3 linked regions of the Homo sapiens genome follow. The protein of the gene in region 3 purifies or fractionates together with the protein of the main gene of each other region. This does not show direct contact. Each region holds a gene or a part of one and is shown on either strand. Other genes may lie near its edges.

The links.
Region 1: the proteins of HIKESHI (region 3) and CLEC3A purify together in Homo sapiens (affinity purification with mass spectrometry; 2 studies listed by BioGRID and IntAct, with this or other methods). This does not show direct contact.
Region 2: the proteins of HIKESHI (region 3) and TRMT61B purify together in Homo sapiens (affinity purification with mass spectrometry; 2 studies listed by BioGRID and IntAct, with this or other methods). This does not show direct contact.

Annotation. Positions count from the first base shown.
Region 1 is NC_000016.10:78,025,168-78,033,589, reverse strand, and holds the end of CLEC3A (C-type lectin domain family 3 member A precursor), read right to left. Parts: intron 5,484-8,422; coding exon 5,400-5,483; intron 3,144-5,399; coding exon 2,749-3,143; 3' UTR 1,489-2,748; downstream 1-1,488. UniProt on the Homo sapiens protein: Promotes cell adhesion to laminin-332 and fibronectin.
Region 2 is NC_000002.12:28,859,280-28,867,701, forward strand, and holds part of TRMT61B (tRNA (adenine(58)-N(1))-methyltransferase, mitochondrial precursor), read right to left. Parts: intron 5,841-8,422; coding exon 5,738-5,840; intron 2,030-5,737; coding exon 1,839-2,029; intron 1-1,838.
Region 3 is NC_000011.10:86,332,255-86,340,676, reverse strand, and holds part of HIKESHI (protein Hikeshi), read right to left. Parts: intron 4,714-8,422; exon of another isoform or gene 3,744-4,713; intron 3,299-3,743; coding exon 3,147-3,298; intron 1-3,146. UniProt on the Homo sapiens protein: Acts as a specific nuclear import carrier for HSP70 proteins following heat-shock stress: acts by mediating the nucleoporin-dependent translocation of ATP-bound HSP70 proteins into the nucleus.

The sequences.
Region 1 (8,422 bases), on a different chromosome or scaffold from region 3:
ATCTGTGCTTTGTCTTGCTAACTGATCTTGATATTCGCTAACCCTCATCTTGATGTCACTAACCTTCATCTATTCCTTTGCATTAACTTACTCTCTTGGTCTTCTTGAGGCACTTTGGGAAGGATTGCCTTATTTAATGGATCATCTTCAAATGTTGTCTTTTTTTTTTTTTTCAATAGGGTCTCACTCTGTCTGTTGCCCTGGCTGGAGTCAAGTGGTACAATCATGGCTCCTTGCAGCCTCAAACTCCTGGGCTCAAGCAATCCCCCTGCCTCAGCCTCCCAAGTAGCTGGGACTACAGTCATGTGCCATCACACTTGGCTAGTTTTTAAATTTTTTTTGTAGAGACCATGTCTTGCTGTGTTGCCCAGGCTGGTCTTGAACTCCTGACCTCAAGTAATCCTCCTGCCTCAGTCTCTGATGTCGTTGGGATTAGGGGCTTGAACCACCATGCTCAGTAACATTGGTTGTCTTTGTCTTTATTTGGGCCCTTGCAAAGGGGGAAGGAAAAACACCTTCTGTGAAGTAGCCTCAGACTGAATGCTTCTCAAGGTCAGCTGTTAGTCCAGATTGTTACTTCACCTAAGGAAATTGAGATACTGGATTAGAATCCACTCCCATTGCCTTTCTGAATGGGCTTTACCTTTTATTGCTCCCCATGGGTAGTAAGTATACAGGATCTGAGTCAGCTTGTTAAGTTCCAGTGACAGTTCCACTATTTCCTGGCCTGTGACTTAGGACAACTTAACTCTCTTTTTTTTCTTCTTCTGTAATATGAAATGATTCTAGAGCCTAATTCTCCAGGTTAAATTCCCAGGGTTGTTCCTCAAGATAAATGATAATTATATAAGATCTAGCATAGTACCTGAAATGTGAAGAGAATGCACTTACTCACCAGTGTCCACCCGTTTCATTATGGTCATTACCTTTACGAAGACTGTGGTTACGTTGGAAGTAGGGAGTTGGCCAAGATCAACCAGATATAATTGCAGCTACATTTTTTGCTGTTTTGAGACAAGGTCTTGCTCTGTCATCCACGCTGCAGTGTCGTGGCACAATCTGAGCTCATTGTAGCCTCAGCTTCCTGAGTTCAAGAAATCCTCCCAGCTCAGTCTCCCGAGTAGCTGGGATCACAGGTATGCCTTACCACACCTGGCTAATTTTGGTACTTTGTGTAGAGACAGGGTTTCGCCCTGTTGCCCAGGTTGGTCTTGAACACTTGAGCTCAAGTGATACGCCCACCTCAGCTTCCCAAAAAGCTGGGATTATAGGTGTGAGCCACTGCGCCCAGCCTCTGCAGCTAAAATTTTTTAAAAGTTTCCCTCCTCTAGCCAGACCATACCTCTTCATTGCCAGGTAAAATTGTTCTCTGAGTATATCCGAATCACCAGTTTGATTAAATTCAGGGTAATTCCCCTCAAACTCTGCCAAGTTTAATATAAACCAACATATTTTGAATAACTGTAATTAACACTCGAACACATTTTCTATTGATCAGAATTCAGGCTTTATTATTGAGCAATGAAAACAGCTAAAACTTAATTCCAAGCATGTGTAGTTAAAGTTTGCAAAGTGGGATATTGTTCACAAAACACATTCAATGTTTAAACACTATTTATTTGAAGAACAAAATATATTTAAAATTGTTTGCTTCTAAAAAGCCCATTTCCCTCCAAGTCTAAACTTTGTAATTTGATATTAAGCAATGAAGTTATTTTGTACAATCTAGTTAAACAAGCAGAATAGCACTAGGCAGAATAAAAAATTGCACAGACGTATGCAATTTTCCAAGATAGCATTCTTTAAATTCAGTTTTCAGCTTCCAAAGATTGGTTGCCCATAATAGACTTAAACATATAATGATGGCTAAAAAAAATAAGTATACGAAAATGTAAAAAAGGAAATGTAAGTCCACTCTCAATCTCATAAAAGGTGAGAGTAAGGATGCTAAAGCAAAATAAATGTAGGTTCTTTTTTTCTGTTTCCGTTTATCATGCAATCTGCTTCTTTGATATGCCTTAGGGTTACCCATTTAAGTTAGAGGTTGTAATGCAATGGTGGGAATGAAAATTGATCAAATATACACCTTGTCATTTCATTTCAAATTGCGGCTGGAAACTTCCAAAAAAAGGGTAGGCATGAAGAAAAAAAAAAAATCAAATCAGAACCTCTTCAGGGGTTTGTGTTCTGATATGGCAGACAAGATACAAGTCCCACCAGGAGATGGAGCAATTCAAAATAAGGGTAATGGGCTGACAAGGTATTATTGCCAGCATGGGACAGAATGAGCAACAGGCTGAAAAGTTTTTGGATTATATAGCACCTAGAGTCTCTGATGTAGGGAATTTTTGTTAGTCAAACATACGCTAAACTTCCAAGGGAAAATCTTTCAGGTAGCCTAAGCTTGCTTTTCTAGAGTGATGAGTTGCATTGCTACTGTGATTTTTTGAAAACAAACTGGGTTTGTACAAGTGAGAAAGACTAGAGAGAAAGATTTTAGTCTGTTTAGCAGAAGCCATTTTATCTGCGTGCACATGGATCAATATTTCTGATCCCCTATACCCCAGGAAGGGCAAAATCCCAAAGAAATGTGTTAGCAAAATTGGCTGATGCTATCATATTGCTATGGACATTGATCTTGTGTTGCAATTTTTTAATAAGTAAAAATTATGATTTTTACTTGATCTTAGAGATCATGAACCTATAAGTTATGATGAATCTTGCTTGGAGGACACATTGGAGAAAGACCTATTGAGGGATGGTGAACTCGCATATGTATCTCTTGCTGCTGCGACAGGCCTCATCACTCCACTTGCCCTGAGCTGATTGGGAGAACAGGACACAGTTTTCTCGCTTGCCACCGTTAGGCTGTGCACGGTCCCAGTTGAGGAAGGAGATAGCGATTCCGTTGACGTCAACAAACTTGCCTTCCGTGACCATGTCATTGATGCCCAGCCAAAAGTCATTGACACCTGGCAGGCTCCTTTTACCATAGTCTTGGAGGGCGTTGATTTCGTCGGAGTTCCTGGGGATAACCAGGATTCCTCCTTTGGAAATGCAGTCTTCATTGGCCTCATGGAAATGCTTCAAACCTTCTGAAGCAAGGTAGCATTTCTTGTGAACTTTAGTGCCTCGGAGACAGACTGTGAAGATGTGAAGTGTAACATATTAAGATGCATTTTGAGTGTATTATGACTAGGGCTGGACCTGGCAAATAGCAATAAGTATTTGTGGAATGAAGTATGATAATGATGAGACAACAGTTAAAATTTTCTATGTGCCGGACAACATGCTAAGCATTTTACATAAATTAAGTTACATAATCCTGACAACCCCATGAAGTTGTATTTTATTACCCCTATTTTTACATATCAGGATATTTAGGCTTAGAGAAGTTGTTACTTGTAACACCTTAGCATTTTTTTTTTTTTTTTTTTGAGTTGGAGTCTCGCTCTGTCGCCCAGGCTGGAGTGCAGTGGCGCCATCTCGGCTCACTGCAAGCTCCGCCTCCCGGATTCACGCCATTCTCCCGTCTCAGGCTCCCGAGTAGCTGGGACTACAGGTGCCTGCCACCACACTCGGCTAATTTTTTGTATTTTTAGTAGAGACGGGATTTCACCGTGTTAGCCAGGATGGTCTCGATCTCCTGACCTCATGATCCGCCTGCCTCGGCCTCCCAAAGTGCTTGGATTACAGGCGTGAGCCACTGCGCCTAGCCACATTTTTTTAAATGAAGTAATTTTTGCAGCATGTGAGATCACAGCTACCCAAATGCAGGTCTGCCCTATCCCAAGACATGGCCTTAAACTTCATGCTGTTCTGATATATACATGCTTGCTACTCTGTGTTGGATTTCTTTGGGAGTTTTGGAACTAGATGGTATTTAATATTTATTTTTAAAAATATTTGTTTAAAAAAAAAATGCTTGGCGTGGTGGCTCACACTTATAATCCCAGCACTTAGGGAGGCAGAAGCGGGTGGATCACAAGGTCAAGAGTTCAAGACCAGTCTGGCCAACATAGTGAAACCCCGTCTGTACTAAAAATACAAAAAATTAGCTGGATGTGGTGGTGTGTGCCTATAATCCCAGCTACTCAGGAGGCTGAAGCAGGAGAATCGTGCGAACCTGGGAGGCAGAGGTTGCAGTGAGCCGAGATTGCGCCATTGTACTCCAGCCCGGGCAACAGTGCAAGACTCTGTCTCAAAAATCAATCAATCAATCAATCAATTAAATTCTAGTTTTGCATGTGGAGAGACAGGGATTTTCTTAAGCAGATAACTGAGCCTTGGTAATATTGTTTAGATTATTCAGGATAAACTGAGCATAAAGATAGTTTTAGGCCGTAGCACTGGAGAGTCAGGCCTCAGAGCCCATAGTGCCTGGGTTTAGGTCTCATCTCTGACATTTAACTAGCTGTGTATCTCTTGAACAAATTACTTACCTTCTTTGTGCCTCATTTTCCTCATCTGTAAAATTAGGATCATAATAGCTTAAGTTGCTGGAGGATTAATGGATTTGTGTTTATAAAGAATTTCTAGTACCTGACTGTGGGTAAAGGATGAACCAAACTCACCTTCTGCATAAGCATTTGACTGTCTTTTAACTTTCTAATTCTGTTCCCCCGGAAGCCTGATAAAGGGAGTATGTCACCCTTGTTACTAGGCAACATTGCTTGTGGTAAAAATGACCCCAGGTTGGTAACATGCATCTGGTCTGGGAGTTATAAATACTTGATGGAAAGCCGTAACTTCAGTCTTCCCTGAAGGCAGTAACTTGTAATGAGGCAGGTCTCTTGTGAGGAACCTCAACACCTTGCTTTTGAAATTGCTACAAAGGATATTAGCTCCTTGGGGGATGAGCCTTGTAAACCAGGGCTGTTCCCAAACCTGCCCACATGGCTCACTTCCTCACCCCTTGGAGAATAGCTCCTGGGCAGTAGCGCATGTGGCTGCATAACTGTGGGGAGGAACGCTGGCGCTGCCCTGTTGGCAAGCTGCGGTTCTAACCCATGTCCTTCCAGCATCTTAGGCTGGGTGTGGCCCGAGAGAGTCCTGGTGGCCTGATAGGCACTTAGCTATCATCCAATAAATGCTAATCATTTTAGTCATTTCATACTGGCTTCATTCTGTTTCACTACTCTTTAGAGAATAAGTATGGACTGACTTTTCAAATTTATTCCTGAACTACTTATTTTTATTTCTATACCACCCATATATAGGAGAATGGGATTGTAAATGAAGCTGATTTCCTAAAACAATCATCTCCCGGCATTGGGGCCCTCTTATTGGCCACATTATTGATTTGTCAATGTTTCTTTTAAAAAGACGTCCCCCAGAAATTGACCCAGAAATTTTCCTGTCTCCTTTGGGACAAGGCACTGAGAAGGTCTGCACCTTACCTGTCTGCAGGGCTTGAATTTCCTTCAAGGCATTGACTTCTGTCCAGAGCTTTTCAATTTGAGTCTTCAGATCTCCATCCTTGTCTGGGGAAAATTTTAGGGTGGGATGGGGTAGGTGGATGAAAAGCGTATGATTAAAATAAAATCAAGCTTTGGAATGTAGGACCCAAGGCAATAGTGGTTTTGGTGAACCTGAGCCCAGTGTATACAAAAAATAATGCGTGAAAATAACTTGGGGCTGGCGAAGTGGCTCACGCCTGTAATCCCAGCACTTGGGGAGGCCAAGGCGGGTGGACCACTTGAGGCCAGGAGTTCGAGACCAGCCTGGCCAACATAGCAAAACCCTGTCTCTACTAAAAGTATAAAAATTAGCTGGGCATGGTGTTGAATGCCTGTAATTCCAGCTATTTGGGAAGCTGAGGCATGAGAACTGCTTCAACTTGGGAGGCAGAGGTTGCAGTGAGCAAAGATCATTCCACTGCACTCCAGCCTTGGTGAGGGAGTGAAACTCTGTCTGAAAAAAAACCAAACAAACAAAAAAACAATGAATGAAGGAAAGAAGGAAGGAAAAAAAGAAAAAGAAAATAACTTGGACAGGAAGATTCTTAAGAGCTTCATGGCAATCATAATACTAGAAGGTCCTTCTGTGAGATGAGGCTCCTTCTGTCTCTCCAGTCACATCCTGTGACTCTAGGCTTGTTGACTTTCAGGGTCATCTGAGAATGAGCTCAATCTCATCTTCCCTGTGTGTTCCTTCTGCTAGGATCACTCTTGCTCCAGCGCTTTCCTGTATTCTTAGCAAGCTTAAATATCTCCTCTTCTGAGAAGGCTTTCCTGGTTATACTATAATTTAGTATCCCTTCTGCTAATCTGTCTTTGAAACTTATTTTTCTTCATTCTCTAGTCTCAGTTCACATTTTATTTTATTCCATATTTTATAGAGTATTCTGTATATTTTCTTTTCTCTATTTTACTTTATTTCATCTGTCTTATTATTCTTGGTTCTTCTGATGCTTAACATGATACTTGGTACATAATAGGTGTTCATAATATTGTCTAGTGAATACACACTTTATGGTATACAAAATTGTTTTCACTTGCTCTTCAAACATAGCTATGAAGGGAGAAAAATTGGATTCCCACTGAAGAATGAGGACAAGTCCAATGAGAGTGTCTCAAAAGATACATGGCAGAATTCATACTCTGACTGATTTGGGTCCCCAGGTCCCCTGTCCCCAGTGTTCCGACTCAACACATGCCTCAGGTATGGTGGCTACTAGCAGGGTTAAGTGCTAAAGGTTCATATAGAAATACGTCTATATTAGGTATTAGCAACTTAAGTCTTGTATGTTCCTGGATGAGGCTAAAGGATCTTTATAGCTGTCCTTGACCAATCTTGGCTATAAGTAAGTGGCAGAAAACAAGAAGCCTTGGATAAATTGAAATTTCAGGTGTAATAAGGATTCTCTTAGAGATTGGCAGCTTGTGAGGTCTTCAAAAGCAGGAATTATAAATCATAACAAAAATTATTAAAAGCTTCCACATACTGTTTGTCAGAGATCAATTCTTTCAGTAGTGCTTTGAGAGAGACACAATCATTGTCTCCATTCTGCAGAAGAAAGAGTCCCGGAAAGCTGAATTCACCTGCTGAAGGTCACCCAGCTAGTAAAGTGAAGAATTGGGATTTAAATTTGCCCAGCTCCAGGCCTGTTCTCATTTCATCCCTCTTACCTGCTTCTGCACAGTGATTGCCTCTACCTTCTTGGTCCCGAGCACATGGCCCCAGACAGAGAAGATACTTAAAGCTTGGTATGAACTGTTCCCAGCTGCTTCTTTGTGGGGATTCCATGGAGGAAGTCTATGTTCTGTACTGGATTTTTCAGGACAGTCTAAAATTCACATGTGCTAATTCACTGTCCCCTTAAACATGTGCTTCATAAGCCAGATGTTTCCTCATTTGGGTTAGGAAGCTGTCTTCTGGAATATCCAGGGGTGGCCCCTGCCTCTGTTTTACTTAATGCTACACATCAGTTCTCAAAGCATCCCATGGCTCAGCTCAGAAATACTATAACCTAAAGATTTTTACCTGTGTGACCATTTAATCCAGAAAAAATGTAAGGGTGCATTCAGAATGCAAATTCATCAGCTGGTGGGGGCCGGGCTTGCAAAGACTGCTGAACACTTTCTTCCAAGGTATAAGCTGTCACCTCTAAAAATGTCATCCCCCATCCCTCTCAGCTTCCTGCTCCATTCTCCTTAAATAAGTGGCCTCTACTGGGAGATTGTAAACATTGTAATTAACATGAAGACACATGAATTGATATTAGGCTCCTGGGAGATGGTTATGAAATTCATTGTCCAGGGACTTGGCTGTAGCTTCCATCCTTTGTAGCTGATATAGATGTCTTTTATGTACAACAAACAAAGGGAATATGTGGAACAACTACTGAGCTGGAAAAGTCATATTTTATTCATGAATGCAACACATAAATTGAGACCTATGAAGCAAGTACCAGAGAGATCTTGTGTTTGAAGCTAAATTCTTCGGTTGCTATTTTGAGTCCCCCAGAAGGCTCCCTTTCATTTTACTGTTGCTCTCCAGAGGTAGACACAGTGTAGAAACACAAAAGTCATTCCCAGAAGACATGGCCAGTAAAACCATTATATGATGTTGGACTGTCAAAATACATAGGAATGGGCACTCCCATACACAGAAGATGGGAAGATGGATTGGTGTTATCATTTGGAGGGACAATTAGAAAGTATAATTAACCTGCAATTTTACTTCTGGAAATGTCTCATAACATCCTAACATGGGGAGCAGTATGTGTGCAAAGCAGTTACTTGGGGCTATTGAATCAAAAAGAGATGTATTGGGAGAGATCAGATTAAGTGATGACCCATCCAAACAATGGAATATTATGCAGCTGTTAAAATGAATAAAGTATTGCTTACACTGGTAACTATCCAAGGTTTAATAGATGAAATAAATTTATTTGCCTAGCCAAACATTCTGCATAGCC
Region 2 (8,422 bases), on a different chromosome or scaffold from region 3:
CGTGTTAGCCAGGATGGTCTCCATCTCCTGACCTCAGGAGATCCGCCTGCCTCGGCCTCCCAAAGTGCTGGGATTACAGGCGTGAGCCACTGTGCCCTGCCAGAGATTTATGTTTAACATATGCCTTTTGATCTTTGATCAAACACCAACCCTCAAGCAGTACTCTTACCAATGTACAATTTTTAGAAACGTTCTTAAGAAAAGGAAATTATTCATGATCTAGCTTCTACTTAACAGTTCTGTATTATAATTATTTATGAACACCAACTATAATTCTTTGGTCCTAACGGTATATAACTCTCCCCCAGCAGCTGACACCCCCTCTCCTTCTCTATTCCCTCATATTGAGTAATCATCTGGCACTATTATTCAAGAGAGATTCAGCTGAATAAATCTAAAAAAGAGTGTTCTTTTTAGATCAGGAATGGTTCAGCAGGTTTCTACAAAGCTTCAATGATATCATTAAAATCCTTTGTTGTGTTTCATGCTCATCAAGCAAAATTCTGATGACCAATTTAATCTCGCAGGTATTTTTGACATTCCTATGGATGACCTAAACAGAGCTCTTTCCCCCTTATTGAGCTGTAACATGCAAGCCATAAATGAGAAAAAAGAACTGAGGTCTTTCTGTACAGGAAGCTGTGCCACTAAAACTATAGGTTTTAGTTATATCAGAGCTGGAAGCCAGTGCTGATAAAAATCATTTTCATGGCCAGGCACAGTGGCTCATGCCTGTAATCCCAGCACTTTGGGAGACTGAGATGGGCAGATCACCTAAGGTTAGGAGTTCGAGACCAGCCTGGCCAACATGGTGAAACCCCATCTCTACTAAAAATACAAAAATTAGCTGGCCATGGTGGCGTGCACCTGTAATCCCAGGTACTTGGGAGGCTGAGGCAGGAGAATCGCTTGAACCCGGCAGGCGGAGGTTGCAGTGAGCTGAGACTGTACCACTGCACTCCACCCTAAGCAACAGAATGAGACTCTGTTGCCAAAAAAAAAAAAAAAAAAAAAAAAAAAAAAAAAAGATTTTCTCTCCTCTTTGAACTTTGCTTCATTTCTCACCAAAACAGTCCATCCTTCCAGCAGCCAATTAAGGAAAGGAAGAAAGACTCCTAACCAAGGCCTCAGTCCATAGTGTGAAGCTATGAACTGTGAAGTGGCATCACCAAGGAATTCTGAAACTCTTCAGCCAGCAAATACTTCCATGTCCCAGATCTCCACCATGTTTGATCGCAGCTTAATGTATCCTCTCTTGTCATCTATCTTTTTACTTTCATCTTCTCTGCTTCTTTTCCCTAAGTCAACTTCCCAGTGTTTCTCTTCCTCACAATGTCTCTGCTCCACTTTCTGGAGCTTTGTTCATGATAAACACCTCTGTCCTCGACATCTTCAATGAACACACTCCCCTTGATATCCTGACTTCAACTAACTAAAGATGCCTTCTGCCTATTCCCTGTCAAATGGAAGCTACTTATTCCCCCAAATCTCACAGTTCAGGTTAGGTGCCGGGTTCAATATGCTTCCAATGCTGCTTCCAAAGTATGATTCATCCTAGAAATGCTGAGGTTCATGATGCTCAACTAGTCTTTGGTCCTAGCTTTCAGTCATTACCCCACATTCAATGACAACTTCAGCACCCAACTCGGTAACTCAGTATGTCTCTCTGTCCCAAATCCCACCATGAGATTAAAAGGCATGAAACGAAAATATTCTTTCAATCCCTAGAGATAGACATGAAGCAAACGAAGGAAGACCTTTGCCCATACAAAAGAAGCCTGACCCCTATCTTCTTTATAGTCAAAGTAATAACACAGGACCCACGTTAGAAAACTTACTGCGTCAAATGTTAAAGATTTTATGTCTTCGGTTGCTCCTGAAATGTCCTTATGAATAAAATCCACATTGTCTGGCCACTCTTCTACATGACTTAATTTCCATGAATCACGCCAGTGTTTGTAATTCTTCTTAGCCAGATCATGGTGGTCTTTTCGTACCTCAAAACTTATGACTCGTCCTTGTGATCCAACTTAAGTAAAAAATAATTTGATATTTCATAATATTAATCAGTTTATTAAAAAGTGTCAAAAATGTATTTTGCAAAGGTACTACATGTATGTGAAAAAAATAATTCAAATAGTTCAATGTTACAAGTCTGATCTCCTATCCCTGATCTCCAATTAATCTCCCTCCCTCTTCAGAGGCAACCACATTACCAGCTATTTACCTTTCCCATGATAGTCACTGCCTATACAAGCATGCCAAGTATCTCTCTGTGTTTTTAATACACACTGTGGTGTATTATACACACTGTCCTGTACCTTCCTTCTTACTTACCAATGTCATTTCAGTGCTTCTAGATGTACTGCATTCTTTTTTAACAGGCATTATATTCACTGTATGGCTACGATGAACATTTAGCTTGTTTCTAGTCATATGCTAATATAAACAATACTGCAATGAAAATTCTTATACCTAAGTCTTTGTATCAAGCCAGTATATCTCTACAGGATAAAGTCCTAAAAATGGAATTGCTGGCTCAAGGGGTATGTGAATTTATTCACATAATATTACATTGTCCTCCACGTAAGTGGTGTCAACTTATATGCCAACCAGCAATGTATTAGAATACCTGTATCTCAGGCCGGTCGCAGTGGCTCCCGCCTGTAATCCCAGCACTTTGGGAGGCCGAGGCGGGCAGATCATGAGGTCAGGTGATTGAGACCATCCTGGCTAACACGGTGAAACCCTGTCTCTACTAAAAAAAATACAAAAAATTAGCCAGGTGTTGTGGCACATGCCTGTAGTCCCAGCTACTCGGGAGACTGAGGCAGGAGAAAGGCGTGAACCTGGGAGGCAGAGATTGCAGTGAGCCAAGATGCGCCACTGCACTCCAGCCTGGGTGACAGTGCAAGACTCCGTCTCAAAAAAAAAAAAAAAAAAAAAAAGAATACCTGTATCTCCATACTCTCCCTAAGTTATTGAACTTTTTATCTGTATCAATCTAAAAAGTGAATAAAGTTTATCATTTTTAATGTAGATTTTTGAGTTTGGTTTTTTTTTTTTTTTTTGAGACAAGATCTCACTCTGTCACGCAGGTTGGAGTGCGGTGGTGCAATCACAGCTCACGGCAACCCCCACCTCCCAGGCTCAAGCGATCTTCCCACCTCAGCCTCCTGAACAGCTGGGACGACAGGTGTGTGCCACCACACCCAGCTAACTTTTTGTATTTTTGGTAGAGACAGGGTTTCGCCATGTTGCCAGACTGGTCTCAAACTCGTGAGCTCAAGCAATCTGCCTGCCTCGGCCTCCCAAAGTGCTGGGATTACAGACGTGAGCCACCATGCTCAGCCTTTTAATGTAATTTTAACTTGCATTTCTTTTATTATGGATGAGGTTGAGTCTTTCATATATTTAAAAGGTATTTGTGGCCGGATACAGTGGCTCGCCACAGTAATCCCAGCACTTTGGGAGGGCAAGGCAGGCAGATCACTTGAGGTCAGGAGTTCGAGACCAGCCTGGCCAACATGGTGAAACCCTGTCTCTACCAAAAAATAAAAAAAAAAAATTAAAGGTATTTGTATTTGTGTGTGTGTGTGTGTGTGTGTGTGTGTGTGTGTATGTGAAGAACTTTTAAACTAATTAGCACAGTAATACTGCAATTCCAGAGAGGAGTACTACATTTTAACTTAAGGCAATTAACTTTCCACCCACCTCTATCTGAAGTGATTTGATACCATTTGGAGATTATCCCAGATCAATCAGTTTACAGTTTACTAATGAAGTTTAAATTCCAAGGTATCTTTTGAAATGTAACTCCAACTGCAAGTTATCAGGTTCTCAGGAGATAAAAATTAATTTTAATAGTAACATAAGCTGGGCGTGGTGCCCCATGCCTGTAATCCCAGCACTTTGGGAGGCTTAGGCAAGATTGCTTGAGGCCAGGAGTTCAAGACCAGCCTGGGCAACAGTGAGACCCAGTCTCTACAAAAACTTTAAAAATTAGCCAGCTTTGGTGGTATGTGCCTATTGTCCCACCTACTTGGGAGGCTGGGACGACAGGATCACTTGAGTTCCGAGGGTCAAGGCTGTAGTGAGCCACGATCATACCACTGCATTCCAAACTGGGGAACAGAGTGAGAACCCGCCTCAAAAAAAAAAAAAAAGTAACATAAACAACTGGAAAAGAAAATATGGAGAAAAATATCCATCACATAGGTAAATAGCAATAAGTTCTTGCACATTTATAGTTTAGGATTATTCAAGCCATGACACTCTTCTGATACTATATATTTTAGAAATATAGGCACTTATCTGTTCTCACCAATTTTTATAAATCCACTTTGTCAAATGAAACCGTGCAGTTAGGAATTTGTCATAGATGATGAGAAAATGACTGCCTTTAACTATGTACAGAAAAGTCAAACAAAAGATTGATTGAGGAGCCCAGAATGAATTTACCGGCTTAGTATAATCTAGATAATATTCATATGTGAAGACATTAGGTCAAAGAACAAAAGGTGTGAGTTTAATTTCAGCATATTTCTATCTGTAATCTTTATAAAATCTACTCAAAGAAAGTACTGTGACTATTCAGCAGTCTAGTATTATGTAGGGAAGAGAACACTGCACAGACAGACCACCCAAAGCAACCCTGACACTCAGAGAAATTAGGTAGGCAAAGAGGTACTAATCAACTAGCATAAAAGTAACTAGAAATTAAGTGGTAGGAACATGAAAAAATATATATGTTTAATATACACCTCTTGATTTTTGATCAGACACCCACCTTCAAGCAGTACTTTTACCAACTGACAATTTTTAGAGACTTTCTGGAAAAAAAAAAGATAATTCTTCATGATCTAGCTTTTTACTTAATAGCTCTGTACTATGATTAATTTCTTTATGAACACCTACTATAATTCTTTGGCCCTAACGATATATAACTCTCCCCCCAACAGCTGACAACGTCCTTCCATATTCCCTCAGGCTAAGTATTCACCTGGCACTAGTATTCAACAATAACATGACAAGTACACAAGGAGGTTCCAAGCAGCACTATTTGTAATATCCAACTCAAATGTCTATCAACAGTAAAATAGGTAAATTGTGATTTAAATAGAGAGTATTATACAGCAACTAAAATGAAAGAACTACTGCTGCATGCAATGAGTGAATCTCACAAACATAATAATGAATGAGAGTAGCCAGATACAAAGGAGCACATACTGTATGATTCCATTTTATATAAGTTCGAAGGAGGCAAAACTAATCAGTGATGATAAAAGTCACAATAGTGGTTTCCTTTGGTGATGATAAGGACTGGGAGGGGACATGAGGAGGCATCTGTGGGGCAGGGACACTCCCTACCTTGATCTCGGTAATAAGTACATGAGTGGTCACTATACAAAGATTCATTGAGATATACACTTATGATCTGCACACTTTTCTGTAGCCATATTATATTCCAATAAAAAGTATACTTAAGAAAAAAGAAGCAGCATTAGAGAGCATGGAGAAAGTAAAACAAAGCAAAGAAAATTGAGGGAGGATTAGAAAGAGACTGACTGGAATAAATGTACAGAATGGAAAGAAAAATAGTTGCTTACTTTCAGATTCTAGGAGAATGCTACCTCAATGTTAGGTATTTTCCCAAATATCTTTATACCTTTCTGTTATTATGAACAAATTGAATGTTTTCTTTGTTACTGAGATCCAGCTCAGTCCAATCTCTTACCTGCTTTGGATAAAAATAAGCTCATTCCACCAGAGCCTGAGCCAGCTTCCAAAACAGTATCACCTGGGTTGATATCCATCATTGAGAGAATCATATTAATATCCTATGATTGAAAACAGTATGGGTGACTCAGCGACCAATAAATATGTACTAAGCACCTAGTCTTATCTTACATTGTTGGGTGTGCAGAAGAAGGGAGTGAAAAAACGAATCAGACTCTGGACCTGCCTTCAGTTTATATTTCACTTGATGAAATAAAAGAGATCCAAGAATCAATTAACAAATAAGGCAACACTTCAGAATAATACCAAAATTACAGACAATAAGTTCATAGAGTAGCAGGATGGCCTAGTTTAAAGACAAAGAGTAGACAATTTATGGGAACAATCACAAGGTAAAAACAGCTTTAAACAAAGCAGAGGTAGAATAAATCCAGTTTGTTATCTCAGGAGAGATAGGCAGAGAATTAAATGCCAGTATGAGGCATTAGAACTCAGCCTGATAAGCAACTAGGGTGTGTCACTGAGGTGATATAAATGGCATTTTATGAGGATTAATCTGGCAGAAGAATACAGGATCTACTGGAGAAAAATCAAGAGGCAGGAAGACCAGTTAGGAATTTACTATATAATCTCTGCATAAAATGATGAATTTCCTTTTTTTTTTTTTTTTTTTTTTTGGGAGACGAAGTCTCACTCTTGTCCCCCAGGCTGGAGTGTGATGGCACGATCTTGGCTCACTGCAACCTCCGCCTCCCGGGTTCAAGCGATTCTCCTGCCTCAGCCTCCCGAATAGCTGGGATTACAGGTGCCTGCCACCATGCCCGGCTAATTTTTGTATTTTTAGTGGAGATGGGGTTTCACCACGTTGGCCAGGCTGGTCTTGAACTCCTGACCTCAGGTGATCCGCTCGCCTCAGCCTCCCACAGTGCTGGGATTACAGGTGTGAGCCAGTGTGCCCAGCTCAAAATGATGAACTTCTTATTTTTGGGGGGACAGAGTCTCGCTCTGTCACCCAGGCTGGAGTGCAGTGGTACAATCTTGGCTCACTGCAAGCTCCGCCTCCTGGGTTCAAGCGATTCTCCTGCTTCAGCCTCCCAAGTAGCTGGGATTACAGGCACCCACCACCACACCCAGCTAATTTTTTGTATTTTTAGTAGAGATGGGGTTTCACCATGTTGGCCAGGCTGGTCTCAAACTCCTGATTTCAGGTGATCTGCCCGCCTCGGCCTCCTAAAGTGCTGGGATTACAGGTGTGAGCCAACGTGCCTGGCCAAATGATGAACTTCTAATTTAGAATTAAGATACTATATAACAGCGGTCCCCAACCTTTTGGGCACTAGGGACCCGTTTCGTGGAAGACAGTTTTTCCACAGACTGGGGAGAGGGGGATGGTTTTGGGATGAAATTGTTCCACCTCAGATCATCAGGCATTAGTTAGTTTCTTATAAGGAGCATGCAACCTAGATCTGGTGCATGCACAGTTCACAAGAGTTTGCACTCCTATGAGAATCTAATGCCATGGCTGATCTGACAAGAGATGGAGCTCAGGCAGTAATGCTCACTACCCACCGCTAACCTGCTGTGTGGCCCGGTTCCCTGTTACAGGCCACACACTGGTACCAGTCCTCAGCCTGGGGGTAGGGGAGCCCTGCTATATAAGAAAAAAAAGAGACTATGCTATTACTAGATTGGAGGACCCACTTGCCAAACATATAATTGGAATTGTTTTTGTTAACACAAATATTACGGATGATATTAATAAAAACTGTTTTTTTAAATTTAGTAAACAAATTTTCTTGGTGACAGGGTCTCTGTCACTCAGACTGGAGTGTAGTAGTGCAATAGTAGCTCACGGCAGCCTCGAACTTCTGGGCTCAAGCAATCCTCCTACCTCAGCCTCCAAAGTAGCTGGGACCACAGGCATGTACCACCATGCCCAACTAATTTTTTTTTTATTTTTTATAAAGATGGGGTCCTGCTATGTTGGCCAGGTTAGTCTTGAACTCCTAGCCTCCAGCAATCCTCCTGCCTTGGCCTCACAAAGCACTGAGATTACAGGTGTGAGTGACGGCACCTGCCCCCTCACTTTTTTTTTGAGATAGGATCTTACACTGTTGCCCAGGCTGGAGTGCAGTGGCAAGATCATGGCTCGCTGCAGCCTCAAACTCCTGGGCTCAAACAATCCTCCCATCTCAGCCTCCTGCGTAGCTGGGACCACAAGTGTGTGCCAGCATACCTGGCTAATTTTTTATTTTTTGTAGAGACAAGGTCTCCCTATGTTGCCCCGGCTGGTCTCAAACTTCTGGGCTCAAATGATCCTCCTGCCTCAGCCTCCCAAAATATTGAGATTACAAGTGTGAGCCACTGCACTCTGCCTCTGGTCATATTTTTAATACTAAGATGGAATTATGTAATTCTAACAGGGAGATCAGTTTTTAAACATCAGTGAAGGTATTCCCTCAAGCATTTCAAAGTTGTAGAAGTTGAAGTAAAACTATCTCCAGCCATTACTTGGAAGCTATAAAGAGAAGTCAACACCTAACAAATTTAGTACTTAAATTCCTCCTTAGAGTGGAACAATGTGACTTTTATCTGTAACAAATGGAAAGGCAGAAAGTATACTAAATATGCATATTTATAACTTCATGAAATGTAACTAATCTCTCCTGATTTTGTCTAATGG
Region 3 (8,422 bases):
GAGACTCCATCTCAAAAAAACTATTTGACTAATATCCAGAATCTACAAAGAACTTAAACAAATTTGCAAGAAAAAAACAACCCCATCAAAAAGAGGGCAAAGGATATGAACAGACACTTCTCAAAAGAAGACATTTATGCAGCCAACAGATACATGAAAAAATGCTCATCATCACTGGTCATCAGAGAAATGCAAATCAAAACCACAGTGAGATACCATTTCACAACAGTTAGAATGGCGATCATTAAAAAGTCAGGAAACAACAGATGCTGGAGAGGATGTGGAGAAATAGGAACGCTTTTACACTGTTGGTTGGCGTATAAACTAGTTCAACCATTGTGGAAGACAGTGTGGCAATTCCTCAAGGATCTAGAACTAAGAAATACCATTTGACCCAGTGATCCCATTACTGGGTATATACCCAAAGGATTACAAATCATGCTGCTATAAAGACACATGCACACATATGTTTACTGCGGCACTATTCACAATAGCAAAAACTTGGAACCAACCCAAATGTCCACCAATGATAGACTGGATTAAGAAAATGTGGCACATATACACCATGGAATACTATGCAGCTATAAAAAAGGGTGAGTTCAAGTCCTTTGCAGGGACATGGATGAAGCTGGAAACCATCATTCTGAGCAAACTATCACAAGGACAGAAAACCAAACACCGCATGTCCTCACTCATAGGTGGGAATTGAACAATGAGAACACCTGGATACAGGGCAGGGAACATCACACACGGCGGGCGGGTCTGTCTTGGGGTGGGGGGCAGGGGGAAGGATAGCATTAGGAGAAATACCTAATGTAAATGACGAGTTAATAGGTGCAGCACACCAACATGGCACATATATACATATGTAACAAACCTGCACGTTTTGCACATGTACCCTAGAACTTAAAGTATAATAAAAAAAAACTATTTGACTATTTAAACCAAATACATGTAATACTCATAAAAATTTGGAGTAACTAAGTAATTAAATTAGAAACATGTTTAAACAGATACAGATAGTACTATACATATTTTGTGGATACACAGGAATTTTTTTAAGTACTAAAATATGAATAGGAAAGATATAAAAAGTTAGAAGGTAAAAGGCAGGAAGAGAAGCAGGCAGCAGTGGGCTATATCTATAATGCCTTAATTTCTTTTTTAAAAATTAGTGGCAAATAAGACAAAATATAACAGTTAAATCCAGGGGGAAGACAATGGAAGTCTTAATGTATACCCCACCATAAAGAGAGCTCTGTAAAGACAGGTGTTATTCTATTTTGTGGACCTATTTGTATCTATGAGTGCTTAGAAATGCCTGGTACAGGCTGGGCGCGGTGGCTCACGCCTGAAATCCCAGCACTTTGGGAGGCCAAGGCAGGCGGATAACGAGGTCAGGAGATCGAGACCATCGTGGCTAACACGGCGAAACCCCATCTCTACGAAAAAATACAAAAAAAATTAGCTGGGCCTGGTGGCGGGCACGTGTAGTCCCAGCTACTTGGGAGGCTGAGGCAGGAGAATGGCGTGAACCCAGGAGGCGGAGCTTGCAGTGAGCCGAGATCGCGCCACTGCACTCCAGCCTGGGCGACAGAGTGAGACTCCGTCTCAAAGAGAAAAGAAAAAGAAAAAAAGACATGCCTGGTACAGAGTAGTTACATAATAACTATTTGTGGAAAATATAAGTTACTCTATTTTCTCTGTATTTAAAATATTTCGTAATACATTTAATTAAAACTATAGTTTTATTTTAAAAACTCAAATAATTTATAAACATGTACAGTAAAAAAGTCTTCTTACCCTTCTCCAGGGATAACATTTTAATGTGTATTTTCCAGACACTTTTAAAATATTGTCTACACAGGATACTACGATTATTTTATAGTTTGTTTTCAGCACAGCAGCTTATTTGTAAAATTATGGGAAAAAAAACATTTTTGAGACCCAGAGTCTGTCATTCTCAATTCAGTCCATTTTCAAAGATGTGACAAATCTACCTTTACATTCATGACCACAACCTTCAAAAGTGCGCCTCTGGTACTGCCAGGCAAACACATATGGTTTCCCTAATCCATTCACTCCTCCTCTGCTAGAAGACTTATTTAGTAGTCTTTTTTTATTTCAATTTCTACTACCTCGATCTTAGCTGATGATCGTCCTTTCTATTTCACTAAGCAAGAAGAAATCAGGAGACAGCCTGCACAAGTTCTCATCACCACATCTACCAGCCTCCTGAATCTGTACCCATATATCCATTATCCTGTCTAAAGTGAACACCTCCATATATGCTGCTATTTTCTACTCAAGGACACTGCTTTAGCAGTTCTCCTTGCTCTCCTACATCATCAATTTTTCCTCTTGATAATAGGCTAAGAAGTCAGGAACAGAAAGACAAATAGCATGATTGATCTCACTTATATGTGGAATCTAAAAGTTGAACTTACAGAAGCAGACAGTAGAATGATGGTTGCCAGGGGTTGAAGAGTGGAGGGGAAGGGAAAATGAGGACATGTTGGTCAAAGGGCACAAAGTTTCAGTTCAATGGAATGAATAAATTCTGAAAATCTATTGTACAGCATGGAGAATACAGTTACTAATAATGTATACTTGTAATTTGCTAAGAGATCAGATCTTAACTGTTCTCTACAAAAAAATGATGACTGTGTGAGGTGACTGATATGTTAAGTAGCTTGATTTTATGTCAAAATATAGGCTGGGTGTGGTGGCTCACACCTGTAATCCCAGCACTTTGGGAGGCCGAGGCAGGAAGATCACCTGAGGTCTGGAGTTCGAGACCAGCCTGGCCAACATGGCAATACCCTGTCTCTACTAAAAAAAAAATACAAAACTTAGCCGGGTGTGGTGACATGTGCCTGTAGTCCCAGCTACTCAGGAGACTGAGGCAGGAGAATCGCTTGAACCCGGGAGGCGGAAATTGCAGTCAGCCGAGATTGCGCCACTGCACTCCAGCCTGGGCAACAGAGCAAGACTCCATCTCTCAAAAACAAAATAAAACAAAACAAAATGTAAACATGTATCAAAAACATCACATTGTATACCCTAAGTTACGATTTTAACTTGTATATTATACCTTAATAAAGCAGTGGAGGGGGAGGTAAAGAATGAAATGTATGTTGCATTACCTGAGTGAATGAGTCAACTGAGGATACAGCAGCATTACCTACAGGAGTCTGCTGAGCCATACTGTCTAATAATTCCACTGAAATTCCAATCTGAGCAACAGATGGAGTTCGGACAATATTCATGGCTCCAAAAGGATGTTGGCTTCCTTCTCCTGCAAGAAATTAACATATGACACACATTTCAAATTAAACTTGTAGTCACACAATTTCCTTTGTAAATTTATAAAGAACCTCTAATTTATATACATGAAAAAGTTTTATGTCCAAGTTTGTCCCTCTTTTCAGATAAATGCAAAAGCCTACTTCGTTTTTAGCATATTAACAAAGAATAAAAGAACTAAAAGTTTCCCACCAGAAAAATAGCTGTCACATTTCTGAAATGTATTGAAACTACTGCAACTAGACACAGACAGTAACAGAGTGTGGGAAAAATAAATAATTAATAGAGAAGACTCCCTTTAGCATTCCTTATGGAGCAGGTCTGCCAGCAATGACTTAGTTTTTGTTTATCTAGGAAAGTATTTCTCCTTCATCTCTAAAGACAGTTTTGCTGAGTATATAATTCCTGGTTGATGGCTTTTTTTTTTTTCCTTTCAGAACTCTGAATATGCCAATCCACTACCGTCTAGAAGACTATGGGGTCTCTGATGAGAAATCAGCTATTAATCTTAGCAAGGATCCTTGCATGTGATGAGTTACTTCTCTTGATGCTTTCAACATTCTCTCTTTACCTTTTGACAGTTTGATTATCGTGTGTCTTGGTGTAGTTTATCCTACTTGGAGTTTCTTGAGCTTCTTAAATGTGGTTAATGTTTTTCCTCAAATTTGAGAAGTTTCTGAGCATTATTTATTTAAATATTGTTTTAGTCTGTTCAGGCTGCTATAACAAAACACCATAAACTGGGTAGCTTATAAACATCGGAAATTTATTTCTCACAGTTCTGGAGGTTGGGAAGTCCAAGATCAAGGAACCGGCAGATTTGGTATCTGGTGAAGGACCATTTTCTGGTTCAGACAGTGCCTTCTCACTGTGTTCTCACGTGGTAGTAGGGCAAGTGATCTTCTTATTACTCTAAGAGTGGTAATCCCATTCATGAGGGCTCTACTCCCATGACCCAGTCACCATCCAAGTCCCTACCTCCCAATACCTTGGGGGTTAGGATTTCAGCATATAAATTTAAAAGACCTCATCATATAAAAAGACACAAACATTCAGACCAGAGCAAATATTCTTTCCAGCCCTCCCGCCTTTCCATATGTTACTCTCATTACACTGTGTCTGCTGTGCATGTTGGTGCACTTGAGGGTGTCTCACAGGTCTCTAAGGGTCTGCTCTTCAAACTGGATATTCCAATTAATTTATCTTCGACTTCACTGATTCTTTCTTCTGTCTACTCAATTCTGCTATCTAAGCCCTTTAGTGAACCATTCAGTTACTGTACTTTTCAGCTATAAACTCTGTTTAGTTCCTTTCTATAATTTCTATATTGATATTCTCTATTTGATGATGTATCATTCTTCTGGTTTCCTTTAGCAATTTGAGCATAATAAAGACAGCTTACTTAAAGTCTTTGCCTGTGCTTCCCTGGGGGAAGTTTCTGTTCGTTTCCTCTGTATAAGAGCCTTACTTTGTTTCTTTGTATGTTTCATAATTTTTTGTAGAAAACTGGACATTTTGAATATTACAATGTGACGACGCTATAAATCAGATGTTTCCACCTTCTAGGGGTTTGTTGTTGCTGTTTATTGTAGTTGTTTCCTCATTTAATGACTTATCTGAACTAATTTTGTAAAGTCTGTTTCTTTGTTATGTGTGGCCAGTGAAGTCTCTGTTCCATTAGTTAGTAGTCTGCTAGTGATTAGAAAGAAATTTCCTTAAACCTCTGCAACCAAAAAATTCTGCCAGTCTTTGCAGATGGGCTCTGCGTGTTGGGACATGCCTTTAGTATTCAGCCAGGCAGTTTATAACTCCACCTTAGTCTTCACTTCCTGCTTGTGCGGAGACTTAAAGTGAGCCAGAAGAGAGAGCTCTGGGTCTTCGCGGGTCTTTCCTGAGCATGCACAAAGCTCTGGGAATGCACGTACCCTTCTAGATTACCAAGAATATGTCAGAGAATTTCAAAGCCCTCATTCCCCAAAGCATCTCATTCCCAACCTTTCTGGTTAGTTTTGGTTTACTCCAACTGTTTTCCTTTGCCTCGGGCAACAGTAGCTAAAACATATGTCTGTAAATACTTTTAACAAACACCCCCAAGGTAGATACTTTTCCATGAAGAGTTCCAAGTTAGGTGACATAAAGGCAGACCTCTTTTTTTTTAAACAGTCTTCTAGCAAGCCACCAGACAGATGAAAACAAGTTAATTACAATTCTTTCTGAATTAGGTCTATCCTGCTCCCTATATCAGTACCAGGAATGGAGTCTGTTATTTTCAAGGCTATCACTGAGCTGAGAAGCAGATGGGACAAGGGTAGCCAAATGCCACAAAGCTCACTGTTCTTACTGAGATTCAGTGTATTTTCTTGATTAAATGTTCCCCTGATTGCTACAAGCTTTTGGTTAGTTACCAGAGTTCCAAAAAAGTTGATTCTGGGTCAGACACAGTTGCTCATATCCTGTAATCCCAACACTTTCAGAGGCTGAGGCAGGAGGACTGCTTGAGCCCAGAAGTTTGAGACCAGCCTGGGCAACATGGGGAGACCCCATCTCTACAAAAGTTAGCCAGGCGAGGTGGTGCATGCTTGTGGTCCTAGCTACTTGGGAGGTGGAGGTGGGAGGATCGCTTAGGCCTAGGAGATCGAGACTACAGTGAGCTGTGATCTTCTGACAGTGTTGTTGTTGCTTTTATGGAAGACTGGATTTTCTGGAGCTCCTTACTCTACCGTTTGATTTCTTTTAAATCTAGAATTATGCTAAAATCCAGAAAACATATCATTATCAAAGCATATCATCAAATAGATGCAAAAATAATAAATTATAAATCATAATACAAAGAAGAGCAAGCAAAATATATGACCTAGTCTTAATATAAAAAACAAATGTAAATTAGATCAAGTTCTTTAAAACACTGTTAACAGTAAATGCAGCAGCTAATTTTTTTTAAGACTCTTTCTCAAAGCATCCCTCCTCCATGTAAATCAAGAGCCTAACACAAAACACAACTCAGAGGAAAAATTCCTACAGGGAGCTAGTTCTTTATTCTCAGTATACAAGGAAAAGCAGTCACCATCATTTGTTATTTGCATCTAATGGAAACTTTACACACACACACACACACACACACACACACACACACATATTTTACAAAGAATGTTGAGAAGAATCAGGAAATAGTGGAAAACAACTTTATTAGATTTTTTCTAAGTATTTAAGTACAGCAAATCCAGATAGTCATTCCACATTTTCCTTGTTTTTAAGATATAGCTGAAATGGGCTATGTCCTGTGAATACAACTGCCCATCAACCATCATGGATAAACATGGAACACATGCGTCTTATGGAACACATCCATTTTATAAATTTCATAAGTCAGATATCTATTAATAAAGTTATAGCTTATGGTTGTATCTTGTTCTTTTTTTGGCATCTACATTGCCATAATATAATACCTGAAAGCTTGAAGTTTTGAAACCTTTAACGGCTCATAATTTGTTGAAGGATGGCTATCCTCTGATCTACATTTTGCAAAATATTTTCATTTTTAGATTTATAACCATTATTTAGAATGATCAAGCCAATTATTTTTTTTTTCATTCCTATACCTATTTCCTTCCAATCACTTCTCTATACACCCCTGCTTTCAGCATTTGTCTATTTATAAAACCATATCCAGTCTATTTTGGAACACAAATATAAGAGATAAAAGAATAGCAGAACACATCCTTTACTACTTGTCCATGACAAAATATTATGTGAGAAATTCCTTCTTCTTAAATGACTGAGTAGAATACCATATTTCTTTTCTTTTTTTTTTTTGTTTGTTTGTTGTTGTTGTTGTTGAGACAGAGTCTCACTCTGTTGCCCAGGCTGGAGTGCGGTAGGACGATCTTGGCTCACTGCAACCTCCGCCTCCTGGGTTCAAGCAATTCTCATGCCTCAGCCTCCCGAGTAGCTGGGATTACAGGCCTGTGCAACCACACCGGCTAATTTTCAAATTTTTAGTGCAGACGGGGTTTCACCATGTTGGCCAGGCCAATCTGGAACTCTTGACCTCAAGTGATCCACCCATCTCGGCCTCCCAAAGTGCTGGGATTACAGACATGAGCCACCGCACCCGGCCTCATATTTTCTCTTGATCCTTAAAAATACATTGTTCAATCATCAAATTTTTAGTTGAGAAAACTCAGATAATGAGATCTTATTTGAAGATTCATAGTAGGTAATTTTGCTTATATGATCCACTTTACCATCGTCATCAGTGTAGAATTTACCTTTCAGTATTCATTTTCTGATTTGTCTAATAATTGTGAAACTTCTTCCTCTGTCAATTTTCTTCTCTTTGCCATTATGAACAAAATATTTAAAAGTATGAATTTACATTCTGTTCAATAAAAGCTAAAAAGAGACCATAAAGATGGTGTCTCCAGTCTCCTTTTATATTACTTAAAAGGTGGCATAATCTTTTGGGCAATGCAACATGAAAATTGTAGGTTAATGCAATGACAAACCAAGGCCCACAGGCCAAATCGGTCCCACAACCTATTTTGTATGACGTGGGAGCTAAGAATGGTTTTCAAATATTTAAAGGGTTGTTTAAGAATAATATGCCACAGAGATCAAATGTAGCCCACAATGCCTACAATATTTTCTAACTGATCCTTCACAAAAAAGTTTGCCAACTTCTACTCTAGCTAATTCCAACATTTTTCTTTTTTTATTTTAGCCCCCTTTTTGTAAGTATAGTTTTGATGAGTACTGATAAAATAATTTCCTGGATGAAATAACAAAATGCTTCAATATATAGGTAAAGTAAGACCAGTAATATCCCCAAATGCTTCTTAGATTTACAAAGTGGTCCATATGGTAATTGCAAGATAAAATGAGTTTTATTCTATTAAAAAACATGTAAGTAAATGTTATCTCTATTCTTTATTTTTTTTTCCTCTCTGTTCTTTAAGACCTCTACAAAAGAATAAAACTCATGAAGTACCAATCCTTCTAATGGGTAAAAATGCTCAAAAGGGAAATTTAAAAATTAAAAGTCCACTGGTTGAGATGTCTGTAAGTGTGCATAGCAGCAAAGAGATGAGGACTAAAGAAAACAGTTACGGGCCGGGCA